2 separate regions of the Homo sapiens genome follow, and region 1 is linked to region 2. The links come from fine-mapping of genetic effects on gene expression. Tissue or cell type: blood mononuclear cells. Region 2 holds a variant in brackets; the other region holds the start of a gene. All regions are shown on one strand. Distances are from middle to middle. Region 1 holds the start of SPECC1 (sperm antigen with calponin homology and coiled-coil domains 1). Region 2 overlaps SPECC1 (sperm antigen with calponin homology and coiled-coil domains 1).

The links.
Region 1: it holds the start of SPECC1, and the variant in region 2 is fine-mapped to the expression of SPECC1 in blood mononuclear cells (TOPMed, PIP above 0.99).

Annotation. Positions count from the first base shown.
Region 1 is chr17:20,007,769-20,010,566 of GRCh38, forward strand. SPECC1 (sperm antigen with calponin homology and coiled-coil domains 1) reads left to right here and starts at 1,591. Exons shown (of 15, transcript NM_001243439.2): 1 at 1,591-1,656. SPECC1-DT (SPECC1 divergent transcript) reads right to left here and starts at 1,492. Exons shown (of 1, transcript NR_186461.1): 1 at 287-1,492. RefSeq lists an enhancer at 393-960 and silencers at 1,393-2,062, 2,083-2,262.
Region 2 is chr17:20,037,561-20,040,358 of GRCh38, forward strand. The region is part of intron 1 of SPECC1 (sperm antigen with calponin homology and coiled-coil domains 1); the gene reads left to right. Among named protein-coding and RNA genes, the nearest start is that of SPECC1, 30 kb to the left of the region's middle. The variant G/A (reference allele first, on the strand shown) is at 1,462.

The DNA.
Region 1 (2,798 bases), 30 kb before region 2:
AAAGCAAACATGCCCATTTTTTTTTCTTTTTTTTTTTTTGTAGAGATGGGGGGGTCTCACTGTGTTTCCTAGACTGGTCTCGAACTTCTGGCCTCAAGCACTCCTCCTGCCTCGGTTCCAAATTTTTTATGATGTGAGCATAACATTGATTCTGAAACCAAACAACATTAGACATTCAAAAAGAAAATTATTGCCCATCTCATTTTTGCATATCAATGCAAAGCCTGTAAATAAAATATTAGCAAACAGAATCAAGCAGTATATTTAAAAAAAAAAGACAAGTTTATTGCAGGGATAAACTGGGTTTTTATTAGGAATTTATTATAACTAGGACTCATTACTTCAATATGAGGAAATCAGCTGTCACCCGGTTTGCTCGTCCTTACAGACATCTCCCTCCTCTTCCTCTCTTCCTTTCCAGTGAAAATGTCTTCAAGTTTCCTCTACCAAACCAAAACTTCACCCCACTTCTTTTATTCTTTCCTCCTCTCTTCTCAGAACAAAGGGGTTGTTGCTGACCAGCCCAGGGTTTCTTATTTGGGGCCGGATCATTCTTCCTTGTGGGGCAGTCCTGTCCTTCAGGTAGGATGTTGAGGAGCACCCTCGTGTCTACCCACTTAGGCAACAGTAGCAACTCCCGCATCATGACAACCAAAAATGTCTCCAGACCTCCCCAAATGTACGCGGGGCGGCGAGGAGGGGCAACACCGGCCCTGGTCGAGAACCGCTAGCCTAGGCTCGCCCCTCTACCTGGGCGCCACAACTTGCCAGGGTTGGTTATTCTCCCTGGATCCTTTCCTTCCTCCTCATTTGAGCTTCACGCCCTCAAGTATGACCAAAGGTTCTGTCATTCCACTCCTGCAGTTTTCATTAAGGTCTTAGGCCACTTCCATGTCAAGAAACACAGTGGCTCTTTCTAACCCCTGGCCATGAGGCACCCCTGGAGGAGGAGCCGTGAGGGTAGGGAAGATGCTGAGGGGGATGTTGACCTTGCCGACTTCCAGGCGCCTCCGCTGCATCCCGGAGGAGGCGTTGGGCGGTGAGGGTGCAGCGGGGGGGCGGGCCCCGCAGGATGAGGTGTCCGTGTGCGGCTAGCGCCACAGGCAAGACCGGGCTCCTTGCGGGGCGGAGGTGAGGCCGTGAGCATAGCTCTCAAACTGGAGGGCGCCTCAGAATCACTTGACGGGCTTGCGAGAATGTGGACTGCTGGGCCCCACCTTCATGGTTTTAGTGCAGGAAAAACCGAATAGGCTGGGTGGGACGGAGAATCTGCATTTTCTCAAGTTCCCAGATGAGGCTGAAGCTGCTGGTCCGGGCACCACCCTTAGAAAACCTCCAGTGTAGAGTGCGGAAATGGGGTCCACATCTGGCTTGGGACGCCCAAACATCGATTATGTGCGACCAGAGGATGAGCAGATAGGGAGATGAGACACTGAGAGCTGGGAGAGAGGGGGCCCCCGGCCGCCGGCTGAAGGAGGACGGCGCAGGCGGCGGTCCGGGTACTACATCTCCCAGCGAGCCCCGCGCGGCTCGCGCTCGCCCCCTGGCGGCGATGGCTGGAGGCGCCGGCGGAGCGCGGGTCCCTCTCCTGAGCATCAGTGAGCGCCCGGAGCCGTGGCCGCTGGGGGTTGCGGCGGCGCTGAGCCAGCGGGGCCGGTGAGTACTAGCCGCGCCGCCAGCCCGCCCGCCGGCCGGCTCTTTGCGCCTCAGCCGCGTGGTCTGAAGGGATGGGCGGGCGAGCGCGGGGGTCCGGCAGTCCGTCGTGGGGGCACGGGACTGCCTTTCTGGGAAGGCGTGCTGCGTCTTCGCCGCGGGGGCCCCGGTCCCCTCGTCGCGTGTCCTGTCCCCAGCCCAGGAGGGACGTCCTGGCCTGTCCTGCCCGGCCCGGAGCGGTGGGACCGGTGCCGCAGGTGGCAGCGGCAGGTGGCCGCCTCCTCCCCTCCGGGCCCGAGGGTTGTCGCAGGGACCCGGGACTGAGAGCCAGGTGGCTCCCGACAGCTGCGGCCCTGGAGGCGACCCCAGCCCTCGCCGCAGTGGGACAGGTGCGCGGGCACGCCCGGCCCCGGCTCCTGGGTCTCGGGAGCCTCCCGCACCCTCCCTGTTGTGCCTTGGGGGTGCTGCGTGGTGCAGAGGACCGAGAAGCCCTTCGCCCTCGGCGTCCGCCGCGCTCCCGCCCCTTCCTGGCCGGGGTGACAGGGGAAGGGCTAGGGCTGCGCATCCCGGGTCAGCTGGGGCGCCGCGGCGCAGTGCACCTGGAAGGCCCGGGGGCAGCGCGCGGTGCCCGTGGGTTTCCCGGTGGTGCGGACCTGCGGGCGTGCGGAAGTAACGACCTCCTTCCCCAGTGCCCATGCAAGGAAATTAGTGTTATGTGCTTGCTTTTTTTTTTTTTTTTTCCTAAGGAAGTTTGACTCTGAATATCTTATTTTGCTGGAGCTCCATTTGCCAGCACGTAAGTTTATGTAATAAGCGGCATACAGTTCGGAAAAAAATTTTCCTGTGAAAGTGCTCTTCCTTGCCCTCTGCAGGAAGAATTACGCCGAGCTGGTTGGCAGGCTTATCCACCAGCAACTGTAGGAGCTGCAGGCAGCAGATAAAGTGTTTTTTGAGTAAGGGCACAAGTCAGCCCTTCAGGACAATTTTTGTTTTTGGAAGATTCTGTTATCCAGTTCCAAACACCGTGTTATTTCAGTGTTGAAGATGGGGGAGGAGGGAGGAGCACAGGCTTGTCAATCCTAATACCTCAACAGAAATTAGCTTTGCAGGATTAACTCTCCAAGCAAGCGAGTTGAATTTGGTAG
Region 2 (2,798 bases):
TATACAGTTCTAGTATCAGAGTAACACCCACTTCATAAAATGAACTGGGAGATGTTCCCTTCTCTTCAGTTTTCTCAAAGATGCTATGTAGAGTTGGTGGTAATTCTTCATTAAACATTTGGTAGAATTCTTCAGTGAAACCATCTGGGCCCAGATATTTGCTTCTTGAGAGTTAAAAACATTTTTTAAATCCTTATTCTTCAAACAAAGTTCTATTTTTCTGAAGATATTTTTCACAGTACATACATCTCTTTAGCTGCAAAATAATTTGTCGTTTTTATTTGTTAAGGAAGGGTATAATTACCTTATCTAATATTTATAAAATATTAAGTTTAATGTTTCTGTTTTAAGAGTGTTAAAATTACAAATTCAATTTTCTCAGTAGTTATCAGGCTATCCCAATTATCTATTTCATATTGGGTGAGTTGTGGTAATTTGTGTTTTTTCAGTAATTAGTCCATTTCATCTACATTGTCAAATTTATAATGTGTAGAGTTGTTTCTAATTATGCTTTCATTCTAATAACTGGTAATCCGTGTCTTCTTTCTTTTTTGTTTGTTAGCCTTGCTAGAGGTTTGTCAATTTTATTAATCTTTCGAAGAATCAGTACTTTGTTTCACTGATTTTCTTTATTGTGTTTCTGTTTTCAATTTTACTGATTTATTTTTATATTTTCTTTCTTTTGCTTGCTTTGGGTTTATTTTGCTCTTCATCTTCTGTGTTCTTGAGATGGGAGTGGAGACTATTGATTTGAAACTTTTTCTCTTTTCTAATGTAAACATTTAGTGTTATAAATTTCCCTCTCAGCATTGCTTTAACTATGTCCCACAAATTTTGATATTCTTTTTTTTTTTTTTTTTTTTGAGGCAGTCTCTGTCGCCCAGGCTGGCGTGCAGTGGCACAATCTTGGCTCACTGCAACCTCTGCTGCCTGTGTTCAAGCGATTCTCCTACCTCAGCCTCCCAAGTAGCTGGGACCACAGGCTCCCGCCACTGCGCTTGGCTACTTTTTGTAGTTTTTTAGTTGAGACGGGGTTTCACCATCTTGGCCAGGCTGGTCTCGAACTCCTGATCTTGTGATCCACCAGCCTCGGCCTCCCAAAGTGCTGGGATCACAGGCGTGAGCCACCGCACCCAGCCATATTCATTTTTAGTCAGTTTATTTCCCTTAAGAAATTTTTAAAAATACATTAAACAATAAAAATGAATATCAGAAATGAATATCTTTGACCCACGGATGATTTTAGAAATGTGCTGTCCAGTTTTCAAGTATTTGGAGGCTTTTCTCGTTATCCTCCAGTTACCTCTTTCTAGTTTGATTCCAGTAGAGCACACTCTGTATGACTTCTATTCTTTGAAATGTGTTAAGTTTTTAAAAAGCGTTAGATATAATCCACATACCATATGTTTCACCCACTTAAAACGTACAATTCAATGGCCTTTTTTATATTTGTAGAGTTGC[G/A]CCAACATCACCACAATCAATTTTGGAACATTTTCATTATCCCAAAAAGAAATCCTACACTCTTTAACTGTCACCTTCTCCCTCCCCATGCAGCTCTTCCACTGTCCATCCAAGCCTTCGGCAATCACTAGTGAGCTTTGTTTTATGGCCCAGGGTAGGGTCTAAGGATATGTTCAGTGAATACTTGAAAAGAATGTTTATTTTGCTATTGTTGGGTAGAGTGTTCCGTAAATGTCTATTAGATCCTGTTGTTCAGTGGTGTTAAGTTCTTCTCAACTCCATGCTGATTTTTTTGTCTAGTTGTTCTATCAGTTGTTAAGAGAGGGTGTTGAATCTCCAAGCAGAATGATTGATTTGCCTGCTTTTCTTTCAGGATCTTTTCTTGATCCTTTTATTCCTGTCTCTTGAAATTTTCTTTTCTCTGAAGTCTATTTTATGTTATTAATATAGCCACTCCTTTCTTTTGATTAATGTTTTCATGATATATTTTATTCTTTTAATTTCAACCAACATATGTTGGTATATTTAAAGCAGGTTTCTTTTTTGTTTTTCAACTGAGGTGGAGTCTCACTCTGTCGTTCAGGCTGGAGTGGCGCAATCTTGGCCCACTGCTACCTCTGCTGCCCGGGTTCAAGCAGTTCTTGTGTCGCAGCCTCCTGAGTAGTTGGGACTACAGGCGTGTGCCACCATGCCTGGCTAATTTTTTTGTATTTTTAGTAGAGATGGGGTATTACCATGTTGTCCAGGCTGGTCTGGAACTCCTGACCTCAGGTGATCCACCCGCCTTGGCCTCCCGAAGTGCTGGGATTACAAGTGTGAGTCACTGCACTCAGCCCAAAGCAGGTTTCTTATAGCTATGTTTTTAAATTAACTCTGCTATCTCTGTCTTTTAATTGATATAATTAGATCATTTACATTTATGTAATTATTGATAAGTTAGGGCTTAAGTCTACCATTTTATTTATGTTTTTAAAAAATTTAGTTTGTCCTCCTCTTTTTTTCTCTTTTTGTCTTGTCTTCCTGTAGAGTATTTGAATATTTTTTAGAATTCCATTTCAATTTATCTAAATTGTTTTTGGTTATTATCTCTTTGTATAGTGTTGTTAGTGGTTGCTGTATTACATTATATGTATATATATATATACACACACATATACACACATATATTTATATATACTTACGTGTGTGTGTGTATGTAACTTTTCACAGTGTTGTCATTTTACCACTTCAATGAGGTATAGAAACCTATACTTTCCCCATTTATAATTCTCTGCATACATTTAGTAGAAGCACTTCAGACAGGGTTATAATTTTTGCTTCAACCATCAATATAATTT